Linked DNA regions of Homo sapiens: region 2 is linked to region 1. A link means that fine-mapping ties the variant in region 1 to the expression of a gene that starts in the linked region. Tissue or cell type: whole blood. Region 1 holds a variant in brackets; the other region holds the start of a gene. All regions are shown on one strand. Distances are between the middles of the regions.

Region 1 (7,989 bases):
CTTACGTCAGTGCACCCAAGGAGATGAGACCTCATCCCCAACACACATGAGCACATACACACAATGCCATTTTCACACATTTGAAAAAAATAAACATTTTTAAAGATAAAAGCATAGAATTCAAAATTAAGCCTGATTAAGTTTTTTTGTATAAATTATCTTGTTCCCAAAGCATTCAAATCCTTTCAGTGCTTGTATAATTACCCCAAGTTAAATTCAATTAAAATGGCTGAGAGCGAAGTTAAGACTCAACTACAAGGAAGAAGGGAGCGGGGAAGGCAATTCGGCATGTGTCCCTGAGCGAGCTTCTACAGCCCCTGCACAGAGTGGGTCCATCTGCCACATTCCTGTGAGTCCTGAACGTGAACGCACGGCCGGCCACTGTGTGCTGGCCGGACAGCCTGAATTCTGAGGCCAAAACTTCCAGAAAAAGGCATTGAGCTGGAGGGACTGGCCCTTCTAAGGAAACTGGATGCGCTGAATGAATTAAATCCGAGCCGATTATACTCTACACACACACACACACACACACACACACACACACACACACACACACACACACACACCACTGGCCCTTCTAAGGAAACTGGATGCGCTGAATGAATTAAATCCGAGCCGATTATACTCTACACACACACACACACACACACACACACACACACACACACACCACTTTTAAAAGCACCATTATAGCCAGAAACCGCCGACAAAAGCCAGGCCAGGCTGCAGCCAAACACGCCAGTGTTTGGGTTTACAACTCCTTGGCCTCCCCAGTGTTGGGGGTGGAACCCAGGACCCTAGACATTATTTAAAAGCACATTTGGGTATATACTTGGCTTTTGAAAAAGCACTTAAAGGCCCACGCACAGGCCACTCCCGAGACAGTGGAATGCCCCGAGAGAACGTGCAAAGCCCCAGCTGTTGCTGTGTGGTTATTAGGGAGAGAGGCGGCTCCTCCCACTGAGGCGCTTTCTCCAATCCACTCGCTTCAGAAACAGCAGAACAGCCGCTTTGTTTTTCATTATGGAGTTGTTGTTTTTTCTCCCCAAATTTACAGTGTTCTTTCAGTCATGAAGTTAAAATCATGTTTACTCAGCCATTTTCTGAATTGAACAGCTCACACATGTGAGGCATTTAACTTTTTTGGGAGGAGTATATAAAAGTTTTATCATTTCTCTCATCCAAAACTACTTTCTTAATTAAAAAACAACAAGGCCGGGCGCGGTGGCTCATGCCTGTAATTCCAGCACTTTGGGAGGCCGAGGCGGGTGGATCATGAGATCAGGAGATTGAGATCATCCTGGCTAACATAGTGAAACCCCATCTCTACTAAAAGTACAAAAAATTAGCCGGGTGTGGTGGCGGGCGCCTGTGGTCCCAGCTACTCGGGAGGCTGAGGCAGGAGAATGGCATGAATCCGGGAGGTGGAGCTTGCAGTGAGCCGAGATCACGCCACTGCACTCCAGCCTGGGCGACAGAGCGAGACTCTGTCTCAAAAAAAAAACAAAAACCCATAATGTATATATACACAGACAGGATAAAACCAAGGATGTTCTCCTCTCTGCCCCTAAGCTGTCCAAGCCAAGAAAACCTTTTCCCCAGGGAGGGACCAGCGCCCGTGGCAAGGTGAGGAGGCCACTAGCCTCTTCCCACCTGCCAGAACTGGTATTAACAGACTTCCCCTCGGCTCCCAGGAACTTCCCAGAAAAGAAGGAAAAAGGGATTTCTCCTGGGGGCCATGCTTCAGTAACCACAAAATAGCTAAGGGGTAGCTAAACTCCTAGTTGAAGCACCTTAAAAGTGTTCAACCCTTTATTGGCCCTTTGAGTGGGTCCCCTAAAATCCAGGACCCCCAGGCTGTGCTGTCCAGGGGGCACCTGTGCCCAGGCAGAGAAGGGCTGAGGAACGGGGCACAGCTGCCCAAAGAAGGTGCTCCCATCCCTTCGATGTACAGGGTTTTTCTTTAAAATTCATGCAAATTTGGCGTTGTTTTAATATAACAATGATTATACTTATTTTCAGGTTAAGGAATTTCTCTCCCTTCCCTTTGCCCCCATCTAAAGGCAATTCCCTAGGGAGCAGGTCTCTGTCTCTCAGAGGGGGCAAGACCAGTACAAAGAGGTAGGCTATACCTCCTCCCCTGGCCTAGCACCCCAGAAGGAAAGGAGGTGCTGCCTGGCTGGGGTAGCTCCCTGTGGGCACACTCCCTCCAGACCATGCTGGCTCTACAGCCACCCGCACCTGAGGGGCCCTTGACCCTTCTCCCAGCCATGTGCAGGGCAAGCTTTGAGTGTGGTCCAGGCCAGATCTCTCAGGAAGGCAAAGCCTGGTGGAAACTTGCCCTGTGAATTTCTAATTTCCCCAGGAGAGAAGAAGAAAATTCAATGGATGGGGGCTGTCAGGGGCTCTCCAGGAACTGATTTTGTTCTCTCCTGGGGAAATGAGGAATTCACAAACTGGGCCTCCAACAGCCCCGTGACGAGGCAGGTGTTACTGTCCCATCCCACACATGGGAAACTGAGGCTCAGAAGAGTTATTTAACTGACACAGCAAAGCTGTTATGGGCTGGATTTAAGCCAGGGATTGATCCAAAATCTACACGCCACCCCCCAACATACTCTGTGGTCAACTAGGAGAAACAGACGGGGAAGTTCTCTGTTGAAGAAGAGACTGAAGCTCTAGCTGGTTCTCCCAGCAAACACAACCATTCTGAGATGTCAAGACGGTGACCTGTCGTGAGCCTTGTTATCAATCCCCACCTATTGTTCCTGTGCAAGGGGCTGTGCTTTGAGTCCTTTTCTTTCCAACTTTAAAAACCAAAGCTAGATGTAAAGGTTTTCTAAGGCCAGGAGTGCCTGCCAGCCACTTAATGTTTCTGTTAAGATCATCTGCCCAGTGCTCAGGACGTCCAGGCTGGCTGACAGGCCATTCATTCATTCACTCATTCAGGAGGTACTGAGCATCTAGGACGGGCCAGGCATCCAAAGACAGAAAAAGCAACAGTCCTTGTTCGTAAAAAGCTGCAGCCTGGTGGGGTGGCAGAGATGCTGAGTGCTGCTGATGAGAGGACACTCTAGAGTGGGGACAATGAGTCCCGCATCAGGACCAGGTGTCAAGTGTCCTGCAGGAGAGGGCGACCCAGGCAAGCAGTAGAGCCTCTGGGGATACCCAGGAGCAGGCAGGCCAGGTGGCGGGTGGCTGGGGAGGGGAGGGGGACCTGAGCAGAGGGGACGGTGGGCTGTTGGGGGAACAGAAAGCATGCCAGCAGGCAGGGCGAGGCAGGGCCCGGGCCTCCAAGGGCCTTCCATGGTATCTTATGGAGTCAGATTTCGGCTTCTGTGTGATGAGAGCCGTTCGAGGGCACTACGCCTGGGAGGTGCATGGCAAGATCTGGGTTTTAAAATATTGTGCAGTGAATCCCCAGGGAAGACTGCGTGGCAGTTTTAGGAAAGCTGAGCCTGTGTGTCCCCAAGGACCGGCAATTCCACTCCCAGGCAGATGCAGGCAAAAATGTGAATGCAGGTTCACCAAAATGGCAAGAATGGGAATGTGCTGGTCAGCACCAGGTGTCATATCCCCAAAGCAGACACAACTGAAATGTCCACCAACAGTCAAATGGGCCAGTCAACTGTGGTATACCTGGGATACTCTATGGCAACAAGAATGAATAGGGGCAGCAACACGATGGCATTCACCATGAGCAGCACCACCTGAGAGCGGCCAGACAAGGGCACACACTGCAGGACAAGTTTACCTGAAGGTAAAGAAGTAGCAGGCCGGGCATGGTGGCTCACGCCTGTAATCCTGGCACTTTGGGAGGCTTAGCCAGCTGGATCATGAGGTCAGGAGTTCGGGACCAGCCTGGCCAATAATGTGAAAGCTCATCTCTACTAAAAATACAAAAATTAGCTAGGCGTGGTGGTGTGCACCTGTAGTCCCAGCTACTTGGGAAGTTGAGGCAGAAGAATCGCTTGCACCAGTGAAGCAGAGGTTGCAGTGAGCCAAGATCGCGCCACTGCACTCCAGCGGGGGTGACGAAGCGAGACTCCATCT[C/CA]AAAAAAAAAAAAAAAAAGGTAGTAACAGCCAAAATGAACCTCTGTGCCAGGGGCCAGGTACACAGTGTGTCCACAGGAATCTTGCACTCTTCTAACGTATGGTATACTTTCATAAAATGTACACTAAGCCTTAAAAACAAAGATTAACAGTAGAGGACAGATTTTTCAAGGGCCAGAGCTACACAAAGGAAACACAATGAACAAAGATACATAATTAATTACTACATATAGTTAGTACTACACATAATTAAGTGGAATTCAGAGGTGATGGAGATCAAAGGCTTCATGGACATTGCCTGGCCTGAACTGGACACAGAAACCAGATATTTCCCAGGTCTTGAGATGGACAGTTGCCCACCCTTCCTTTATGTTCCCCCAGGGGATGAAAGCCAAGGTACATTTCTCAGGGGTTCAGAAAGTTCCAAGTCATCATTTAGTCCTCTCAGATTGAAAAAACTCCTATTGCAGAAAAGTTAAATGATACCAACTAGAAGCAGACAGATCCAGAATGTGAGGCATTTTAGGGGAGAAATGATTATAAGACAGTTTATTGCATTAGAAAAAGTGAGGGTGATTTCCCTTACATTAACGATTTCAGGTACAGCCATGGGTAAATGTACAGACCTTGTTTGGATTCTGATTTGAAGATATGACCTATACACAATGACATTTTTGAGACACTTAGGAAAATCTTACAGGTAAATCTAGGTAATAAGAGTCTACCAAGGAATCACGATTAATATTTTAAGGTATGGTAATGGCATTGTGGTCCTGTAAGAAAATATCCTTATTTTTTCAGAGACGCATATGGAAGTATCTAGCATTTGAAAATATCACGTCTGGAACATACTTTAAAATATGTCAGCATATCAAAGAAAAGAGGGAATTGATAAGGCATGTGTGCAAAGGCTCGATAGTTATTGAAACTGGGTGATGGATATATGAGAATCATTGTACTGCTCTATTACTTTTATAGGTAAACGAGAGAGAGAGAAAAGAAATCATCAGTATAAGAAATCAAGGAGGGAACATCACTATAAAACAAACGTTAAAAGGATAATAAGGGAACATAATGAACAACATTATACCAATAAATTCTACAACTTAACTGAAATGGAAAAATTCCTCAAAAGGTCTCAAGTATCAAAGCTCACTCAAGAAGAAGTAGATAACCTGCAAAGCCCTGTATCTACTCACAGTTAAAAACCCTTGCCCAGAGGCAGATGGCTTCATTGGTGAAATCTATTGAACACTTAAGGAAGAAATAATACCAATGTTTTCCAATAAATACCAAACAATTTTCCAGAAAATCAAAGAGGGAGGAGCACTTCTCAACTCCTTTTATGAAGCCAGTAGTACCTGATACCAAATCAAAGACATTGGTAGAAAAGAAAATTACAGCCAGGCATGGTAACTCATGCCTGTAATCCCAGCACTTTGGGAGGCCAAAGCAGGTGGACTGCTGGAGTCCAGGAGTTTCAGACCAGCCTGGGCAACACAGCAAAACCCTGTCTGTACAAAAAATACAAAAAATTAGGTGGGCATGGTGGTGCATGCCTGTAGTCAGTCTCAGCTACTTGGGAGGCTGAGGTGGTAGGATCACCTGAGCCCAGGAGGTCGAGGCTGCAGTGAGCTGTGATTGTGCCATTGTACTCCAGCCTGCGTGACAGAGTGAGACCCCATCTCAGGTTTTTTTTAAAAAGAAAAAAATCTGGGTATGGTGGCTCACACCTGTAATCCTAGCACTTTGGGAGACAGAGGCAGGAGGATCATCTGCCAGCAGTTAAAGACCAGCCCGGGCAAGAGAGAGAGACGCTGTCTCAAAAAATAAAAAAAGAAAAAGAAAAGAAAAAATTACAGGCCACTGTCCATCATAAACATAAATGTAAGAGTCTTGAACAAATACTAACAAAATTCAACAATATGTTAAAAGGATAATACATCATTACTAATGTTTCATCCTAGGAATGCAACGTAGTTTAATATTTAAAAATCAGTCAATGAATTGCCATGCCATAGAAACAGATTAAAATGGAAAAACCACATGACGATCTCAATAAATACAGGGTAAGCACTTGATAAAATTCAGCAAATTTGAGATAAAAATTCCTAGCAAACTGGAAATCAAAGAGGACATCCTCGATCTACTAAAAAGGTTAAGTCTCTGAAAAACCTATGGCTAACATCCTTCTCTTTGTAGTGAATAATCAAGTACTTTCCCTTGAGACTGGATGCAAGGCAAGGACGTCCACTCTTCCTACTTCTAAATCCTCGAGGTTCTAGCCAGGCTAATAAAGGAAGAAAAAGAAATAAAAGGCATACACTTCAGAAAGAAAGAAAACTATCTTTTTTGCAGTTAACATAACTGTCAGTACAGAAAATCCTAAGAAAATCTACCAAAAGGTTACTAGAACTAATGAGGTTAGCAAGGTTTTAGGATATAAGGCCAATATACAAAAATCAATTGTATTTGTATATTCTAACAGGGGAAAACTGGAACTTGAAATTTAAAAATCCATTATCATTTATAGTATCACCAAAAAATCTGAAATACTTAGGGTCCAATTGTTTGAACAAAATATGTGCAAGACCTGTGCACTGAAAATTCCAAACACTGATGAGAGAATTTTAGTATCTAAATAAATGGAGAGATATACCATGTTTTGATGGATAATTTTCACAGTAAAAATGTTAATTCTCCCCAAATTGAGGTAGACATTCAACACAATCTTAATGAAAATCCCAGGGGTTTTTTTTTTGTAGAAATTGATGAGCTAATTCTAAAATTTATATAAAAGGTAACTTAAAGAGTGTAACTGGATTGTTTATAACTCAAAGGATAAATGCTTGAGGGCATGGATAACCCATTCTCCATGATGTGCGTATTTCATATTGCATGCTTGTATCAAAGCATCTCATGTAACCCATAAATATACACATCTAATATGTACCCACAAAAATTAAAAAATAAAACTTATATAAACATTTGAAGGATCTAGAATAGCCAAAACAACACTGAAAAAGCTGAACAAAGTTTCTCTTTTTTTTGAGGTGGAGTCTTGCTCTGTTGCCCAGGCTGGAGTGCAGTGATGCAATCTTGGCTCACTGCAATCTTGGCTCACTGCAACCTCCACCTCCCAGGTTCAAGCGATTCTCATGCCTCAGCCTCCCAAGCAGCTGGGACTACAAGCATACACCACCACGCCTGGTAATGTTTTTCTATTTTTAGTAGAGATGGGGTTTTGCCATGTTGGCCAGACTGGTCTCAAACTCCTAGCCTTAAGTGATCTGCCAGACTTGGCCTCCTAAAGTGCTGGGATTACAGGCTTTAGCCACCATGCCCAGCCCGAAGTTTCTATTTCAATACTTAACTACAAAGTTACAATAAACAAGACAGTGTGGAATTAGAGAAAAGATATGCATTAAGGTTGATGGAACATTCTTTTTGAGATAACGTGATATGGAATTAGTGGTGCGGGCTGCACAACTTTGTGAATATACTAAGACCCACTTACTTGTATACTTTAAAGTGGTGACTTTTATGTTGTGTGAATTACTTCAATTAAAAAACAAAAACTAGTTAAAAAAATCAATGGTACAGAACAGAGTCCAGAAGTAGACCCCTACTTGTAGGGTCAACTGTTTTCAATAAAGATGCCAAAGTAATTCAATGGGGAATCTATAGACTTTTAAACAATGGTGCTGGAACAACTGCATATCCATATGCAAAAAAAATAGATTTTTAAAAACCTCTTATCTCACTCCCTATACACTAATTAACTCAAAATGTATCCAAATATAAGAGTTAAACTTTCTAGAAATCTTTTGATAGGACACAAAAAGCACAAATAATAAAAGAAAACATGAATAAGTTTTGACTTCAGAATTTAAAACACCTACTCTCAAAAGACTCGGGTGAGTAAATGAAAAGGCAA
Region 2 (7,989 bases), 34 kb after region 1:
ACCTGTAAGCTTGTTTCTTCAAGGAAGTGTTGCCTTAGAATCCAGATCCACAGTAAGCCTGAGAGTCTTAAAAACTTTTGACTTCAGAATCCTTCCACATGATTCAAGAAAAAGTTAAGTCCACTTCACAGGGTGACCAGAAAGTCCATGGGGACCAAATATCCAGTTTTCAGTCCTGTTGGGAGGTGAGATAAGAGGAAGTCAACTGAAGAAAGTTAAACATTTAAGCAATAAGGGGCTTACAAACAAACATAAATGACCTAACTACCATTAGAAGGCAATCTCAGACCCTGGGCACATACCCAGGGAAGGAATATACTTATATTCAGTGCAAAAATGCAGTCCACATGCTTGAGGGGCCAAAGAATGCCTTGAATAGAGGAACCTTCCCAGTGACCTAGAGAAAGGGTTCAAAGTTCTCAAGACCTCCTTGACAAAATGTGGTACATATACACAATGAAGTACTATTCAGCCATTAAAAAGGAGATCCTGTCATTTGCAACAATATGGTGCAGCCGGAGGTCGTTATGTGACGTGAAATAACCCAGACACAGAAAGACAAACTTTGCATGTTCTTACTCATTTGTGGGAGCCAAAAATTAAAACAATTGAACTGACTGAGATAGAGATCAGAATGATGGTTACCAGAGGCTAGGAAGGGTAGTAGGGGGGTTGGGGGAAAGCAGAGATGGTTAATGGGTACAAAAACACAGAAAGCAGGAATAAGATCTAGTATTTGATAGCACAACAGGGTGACTATAGTCAGTAATAATGTAACTATACATTTAAAAATAACTAAGAGTATCGTTAGATTGTAACACAAAAGATAAATGCTTGAGGTGATGGATACCCCATTTACCCTGATGTGATTATTACACATTGTATCTCATATACCTTGTAATGAGGGTTTATTATTACACATTGTATCTCATATACACCTATTACTAGGTACCCACAAAAATTAACTATCAAAAAAGAACTATTTGAGAAATAACAGCTCTATATACTCTCCTACAAATAAGAAAAGTAAAAAGAAAAAGAAAAAATGTCTTCTCAGCCATCAGGCAAAGCCAATTTTAGTAATGCTGAGCTCCTATTTTGGTAATGTTGAGCTTCTTTGATTCTTTGATGAGGGTTTCCAAGTCTTTAAAGTCAGATAAATTTAGATTTAAAAAAAGTCAAACCACTTCTGAAGTAGACTTGCCAAAAATGGCAAGCATGAACCTAATTAAGCCTCTAGATCTAACTTCTAGTTTACAGGAAATATAGGGGATAGAGAAGCAAGCCAAACCACACTCCACGAAAAGCAGCCCAACAGATCCAGAGTGTGAGGCACCCTACAGGCAATCAACCAAGTAACATCGACAGTCATTGGTATTGAGGAAACCCGCCAAGGCTGCTCTAGACTTGGGTCGGCAAACCACAGCCTGCGGGTAAGTCCAGCCTGTGGGTGGATTTTAAAACACAAAAGCTTTGGAAATTAAGTATTATTGGAACACAGCCATGCTTATCCATTTACTATCACCCCTGGCTACTTCTGCATGACGATGGCAGAGCTGAGCAGTTGTGGCAGAGACCATAGGGCCTGCAAAGCCTGAAAGAGCTGGTATCTGGCTCTTCACAGAGACATCTGCCACCCCTGCCCTAGATTGAAAGGGGCAACAGCTGAGCACGGTGGCTCACGGCTGTAATCGCAGCACTTTGGGAGGCAGAGGCAGGTGGATCACTTGAGTTCAGGAGCTCCAGACCAGTGTGGCCAACATGGTGAAACCCCGTCTCTACTAAAAATACAAAAATTAGTTGGGTGTGGTGGCATGCGCCTGTAGTCCCAGCTACTTGGGAGGCTGAGGCATGAGAATCACTTGAACCCAGGAGGCGGAGGTTGCAGTGAGCCAAGATTGTGCCACTGCACTCCAGCCTGGGTGACAAGAGTGAGTGAGACTCCGTCTCAGGAAGGAAAAAAAAAAAAAAGACCAGCCTGGGCAATACCTGTCTCCACCAAAAAAAAAAAAAAAAAAAAAAAAAAAAAAAAATAGCTGGGCATTGTGGCACATGCCTGTAATCCCAACTACTCAGGAGGCTGAGGTGGGAGGATGGCTTGAATCCAGGAGTTCGAGGTTACAGTGAGCCATGATCTCAGCAGAGCTGGTTCCTGTCTCAAAAAATAAAATAAAATAAAAAGGTAACAGTCAACAAATTCTTGTCTGGATGTGGATTCAAACAAACCAACAGTAAAAATAAGTTCATTTTTGAGGTGATCAGGGAAATCTGATCATGGACTAGGTTTTAGAAAATGTTAAGGAATTATTGTCAATTTCATCAGGAGGTGATAATTGTATTATGGTTACACAAGCAAATGCCCTTTCTCTGGAGAAACATACTGAACAATTTAGGGGTGAAGTGTTATGTTGTCTGGAATAAACTGCTTTAAACTGCTTCAGCCACAACCAAAAAAAGAAAAAAAAAGATGAAGTGGATATGGCCAAACAAGACTTGTGAAGTCCATTTGATGGATATATGGAAATTCATTCTACTTTGCTGGGCTTTTATGTTTGCTTAAAATTTTCCCAATAAGCAAAACAAACAAACAAACAAAATCAGAACCTTGATCAAAATGTAGAGGTTATCACTGGAGAGCCTTGCTTTCCAGGCACCCCCACCCCCGACCCCACCCCTCCTCTCGCGGAGTCCAGCCTCAGCACGCCAGTTGTTCACCTTTGTCTGAACACACTGTCATTTTCAGCTTCTTATTTTTGCTCATGGTGTTGGCCACCCTTTCCATTCCTGTGCCTATAAAAATCTGTTCTCTGCTTAAGGTCTCCCCAACTGTGACCTTCTCCTGGCCCTCCAGTGAGCACTCACCTCTCAGTTCCAACAGCACACTGCCTCTGGTTTCATTCTTCGCTACGTTCTAGCTATTTACCAGGTCTGTTACCTCATGATGCCATACAATCCCAGAGACTTCCAATAGCTAAGTCTTTTCTGTAAATCCATTTAAGGGGGTATCACGATGCCTTTTACGGAGCAAGCTCCGCAGTCCAGGGGCAGGTCCTCACGGCCTAAACACGGCTGCCTTATCCTGAGTAGTTTTACTGACAATAGAGCTTCAACTGAAGAATGAATTCCTGTTCAGCAGGACACTGGGCAGTCATGTTTAATTGAGAACTCTTAAAATTCCTAATAGAGTTTGCCTAGATGGAGGATGTTCTAAAGAGGGCTGCGAATATTTCGTGTTTCTGTCCTCTTACTGTCACCTTTCCTTGGGTCCTGTCCCCTCTTCAAGCATGGCTGCACTACACTTCCACACCAGCCTGCTGGTGTCCTAATCACTGGTAAGGGCCCTGGCTCGAGGTGGATACAAAGCCTCCCAATGACTTCACTTCAAGAATGGACACAGATTGGAAATCTTACTAGTAAAGAGAGAAATGAACAGATCATTTTAAAATCCCTCTTCTATTCTGCTTACTGCTACCTACTATCCAGATCACCACAAACAACCACCCTCTCCTAACTAGTAGTAGTTAGGGCCTGGTTAGTAAAATCAACTAGCCCAAAGTATTTCCGTACAAAAATCCACCAATTAGAAATTAATTTAACTTTGCAAACTCAGCTTTTACAATACGAATCTCTGCTAGAACACAGTGGTCTGCTTATTCAGGGAAGTCTGGCTTCTTCTGGGAATAGTTTCAGGAAAACAAGGCATTTTGGGAAAATACGGGCAAACTGCAGGTGCTCTTCATCTGAGCATTTCAATAAATTGAATGAGGCCAGGGAAAAGTCTTCACTTACAGGTAAATGTACATAAGGACACCTACGTGTGTGTAAGACCTACACTTTAAATAGGTCACCTTTAGTTTTTCATTAATCATTTCTCCTGGGACATTTAGCAAAACGAATAACTTGCTTTTAAAAAAGGCCACAAATCCCGGGTGCAGTGGCTCATGCCTGTAATCCCAACATTTTGGGAGGCCAAGGCGGGCGGATCACGGGGTCAGGAGTTCGAGACCAGCCTGGCCAACATGGTGAAACCCTGTCTCTACTAAAAACACAAAAATAAGCTGGGCGTGATAGCAGGCGCCTGTAATCCCAGCTACCCGGGAGACTGAGGCAGGAGAATCGCTTGAACCCGGAAGGCAGAGGTTGCAGTGAGCCGAGATCGCGCCACTGCACTCCAGCCTGGGCAACAGGGCAAGACTTCATCCCAAACAATAAAAAGGGCCAGAAATCGACTGCATTTTCTTATCACTTAAATATTAAATCAACTAAGCGTGGAGTTAAGAAGCTGTGTTCAAAAAACACTTAAGTCTGCTTTTGAGCTTGTGGCGTTGTCCTTGGCCCACAGAGTAAAACAGCAATGATAACCATAATTAATAATCAAGGCAGTAAATTTCTTCAAAATTTCAGAAGTTTCACTAATGGCTCCAAAGAAACCTTAGATCAGAAATTCACAAGTGCCAGGAGACGTTTTTAGATTTCTTTTGCAGCTTCTAGTCTCCTTACAAACAGGAAATCTTTAAAATGAAAAACAATTTCTGAGAAGTGTTAGCCCGGTTCAGCTGAGGTCCTCTGAAAGCCAGCGTGTGGGCTGTCACGCTTCCTTTACAGGGAAGCAGCGCCCGTGCGTGAGGCGGTTCCTGGCTTTTACCGCCCTCTGCCCGTTCTGGCAATCGCGCCCGTGGCCCCCGCGCGGGGCAATGGAGGACGCGTTTCGGGGTCCACCGTCCCCTCCCTCCGGCTGGCCTCGCCGGCCGGCGGCGCCCCAGGCCTCCTCCCTCACCCGCGGGGACGCCGAGTGCTGCGGCCTCGACCCGGACGCCGCGCAGGGAGCGACGCCCCAGGTTCCCGCGGGCGCCAGGACACCCCGCCTGGGGGGCGGAGCAGGCGCAGCCCCGACCCCCGCCCGGGCTCAGCGCCTCACCTGCCGGCAGCCGGGGCTGTCGGGGAGGGCAGGGCCAGGGCGGAAATGCAGGGCCGGGCCCGCGCCTCTGCTCCCAGGCCGCCCCCGGCGGCGCCCCCTGCAGGCGGAACGCGAGGCCCGCCAGCCCCTGCGGCGCCCTCGCACACACGTGGCCGCTCGCACAACTGGCCGCCTAACAGCCAGACCCACCCACGCCGATGCCCGCCGGAGACGCCCCGCCGCAGACACAGCGCAACCAGCTTCACACACCTGGGGACGCCCCACAGAAGTCACATCCACCCTAACACACCTGGGCACTCAGGCTCAAGCCCCGACTGCATGGTGGACCCTGACACACCTGGGCCACACCCCACAAAACAGACTCACAGACGACTCCACAAGCTTGGGGACACGCCACATCAAATGGACACACATGCACACACAAATGAACCCAAGCGCAGACACACTTGGGGATGCCAACCATGTGTGTATCTATCACATCACACACCACCAAGGCCCCCCAGCTGGGCATGCACACAGCCCTGATACCGAGTCCAGACCGCCATCTAGTCACACTGCCCACTTACTTACCAATACTCTTAAAATGAAACTGTGGCCGAAGGAGACAATGGAAGGATGACATCACCTCTTCCCTAGCTCCAGGACTAATTTAAGCCCCAGAAATTATAGGACTGAGAACCAAAATCGAAAGAGAACATTTTCCCTAGAGACAATGGGTTAAAGCAATGCCACTTGGGGGCCAGGTGGTAGGAATGGTACAGCTATGGAGAGAGTGACACTTCTGTCTCTCCGAAAGACACAAATCTGTGTTTATCAGATTAGCAATAATCCCCCTTAATCATTTCCTGCCCTTTCTACTTTCTCATGGATGTGGACTGATTGAAACCTTTATATAAACTGGTTTTTATCCAAACGTTTCCAACAATGCAGATGTAATTGTATTTTGAACAGATGTACAATTCCAAAAGAAATCTAAACCATCAGGTACATAAGTCGTTGGTTTTCACAGTTTTTTCTTGTCTTGGACACTTCATAATTAAATTGAAATGTATTAAAAAACCTTGTCTAGCTCATATTAATATTTTTTTTTTTTTTTTTTTTTTTTTTGAGACGGAGTCTCGCTCTGTCGCCTAGGCTGGAGTGCAGTGGCGGGATCTGGTTCACTGCAAGCTCCGCCTCCCGGGTTCACGCCATTCTCCTGCCTCAGCCTCCCAAGTAGCTGGGACTACAGGCGCCCGCCACTACGCCCGGCTAATTTTTTGTATGTTTAGTAGAGACGGGGTTTCACCATTTTAGCCAGGATGGTCTCGATCTCCTGACCTCGTGATCCGCCTGCCTCGGCCTCCCAAAGTGCTGGGATTACAGGCGTGAGCCACCGCGCCCGGCCTCATATTAATATTTTTAAAGACAGCAGTAATTCTTAACTTTTTGAAGCGAAAGAATGATTCCACTTTCATCTCTTTTTTGAGGGGGGAAAATCATGTCAGCAAAGGAAAGTGAGACAAATAGATAAATAATTCTTCTGATAAAGGAAAATTAAAGATGACGCAGACTAGACGAATTTTTTGTTTGTTTTGAGATGGGTTCTCACTCTGTCACCTAGGTTGGAGTACAGTAGCATGTTATTGGCTCATTGCAACCCCTGTTTCCCAGGCTCGAGTGATCCTCCCACCTCAGCCTTCTGAGTAGCTGGGACCTCAGGCACCCACCATCACGCCCGGCTAGTTTCTTGTATTTTTTGGTAGAGACAGGATTTCACCATGTTGCCCAGGGTGGTCTTGAACTCCTGAGCTCAGGCGATCCACCCGCCTTGGCCTCCCAAAGCGATGGGATTACAGGTATGAGCCACAGTGCCTAGCCAAGACAAGTGTTAAGTTGCATCCCAGATAAGGCTGGGGAAGCCCAATCTAACATAGAATAGGCTCTGTGGGATGAAGCCTTCAGTTTAACTTCTTGGAAAACAACTCACAGTTTGAAGAGCAGTTTTTGAAATGTGGTCCCAGTCCAGCAGCACTGGCAGCACCTGGGTATTTAGAAATGCACAATCTCCAGCCACACTGGAGGTGTCCTGACTCTGGGGGTCAACTCAGTGTCAGCAAGTCTGGGGGTGGGGCCCAGAGATGGACATTCTAATGAGTGATGCCAGTTCAAGTTTGAAAACCATCGCCTTTTGAGGATGTACCTCGGTGCTTCTCAAACTTTAACGTGCACGTCAGTCAACCCAGGGTCTTGTTTTAAAATGTAGATTCTGGTTCAGCTAGCCAGGAGTAGGGTCTAAGATTCTGCAGGTGGACAGAGGGTGCTAAGTGAAGATTTTCTTGTGTATAGACACACTCCAGGGTGCTGTCACTGTGAAGACAGCTCCACAGCAAAGCTTGGGTCTCATAGAGATAAAACTCACAAAGTGCCTCAAGGAAATAGACTGGTCAATCTAAGCAGGTCCCGGGCTTGTCAGTTTAGGGTTGGTCAGTTATTCAGGATCCCTTGGCAAGCCAACTGCTCTGGTAGCTTTTAGGAACTGGGTCGACTCACCAAGTCTGTTTGGTTGTGTCCAAATGGTACAATTGAGTCATTCACTGCAAAGGGTTCAGCTGCTCATTCTGGCCCCTTTGCTCTGCCTTTTTACAAACTCTCACATCCTCTAGGCTTAGGGTCATGCAGTCAGCAAATCACTATGCACCTGTATTAGTCTGTTCTTGCATTGCTATAAAGAGCTACCTGAGACTTGGTAATTTATAAAGAAAAGAGGTTTGACTCACAGTTCCACAGGCTGTACAGGAAGCATGGCTGGGGAAGCCTCAGGAAACTTACGATTATGGCAGAAGGTGAAGAGGAAAGAGTCACATCTTAAATTCTTAAACAGCCAGAGAAGGAGAAAGAGAGAGCAAAGGAGGAGGTGCCACAGAGTTTTAAACAGCCAGATCTTGTGAGATCTCACTCACTATCACGAGAACAGCCAGGGGGAAATCTGCCCCCATGATTCAATCACTTCCCACCAGGCCCTTCCCTGACACCCGGGATTACAATTCAGCGTGAGATTCAGGTGGGGACACAGACCCAAATCATATCAG

The links. PIP is the estimated chance that this variant, and not a neighbour inherited with it, causes the effect. A credible set is the group of variants that fine-mapping cannot tell apart.
Region 2: GGACT starts here. The variant in region 1 is the best candidate, but not a certain one, in a credible set for the expression of GGACT in whole blood (INTERVAL, PIP 0.74).

Annotation. Positions count from the first base shown.
Region 1 is chr13:100,549,790-100,557,778 of GRCh38, forward strand. The region is part of intron 2 of GGACT (gamma-glutamylamine cyclotransferase); the gene reads right to left. Among named protein-coding and RNA genes, the nearest start is that of GGACT, 35 kb to the right of the region's middle. The variant C/CA (reference allele first, on the strand shown) is at 4,054.
Region 2 is chr13:100,583,823-100,591,811 of GRCh38, forward strand. GGACT (gamma-glutamylamine cyclotransferase) reads right to left here and starts at 4,967. Exons shown (of 3, transcript NM_001195087.2): 1 at 4,919-4,967; 2 at 3-175. RefSeq lists a silencer at 4,600-5,119.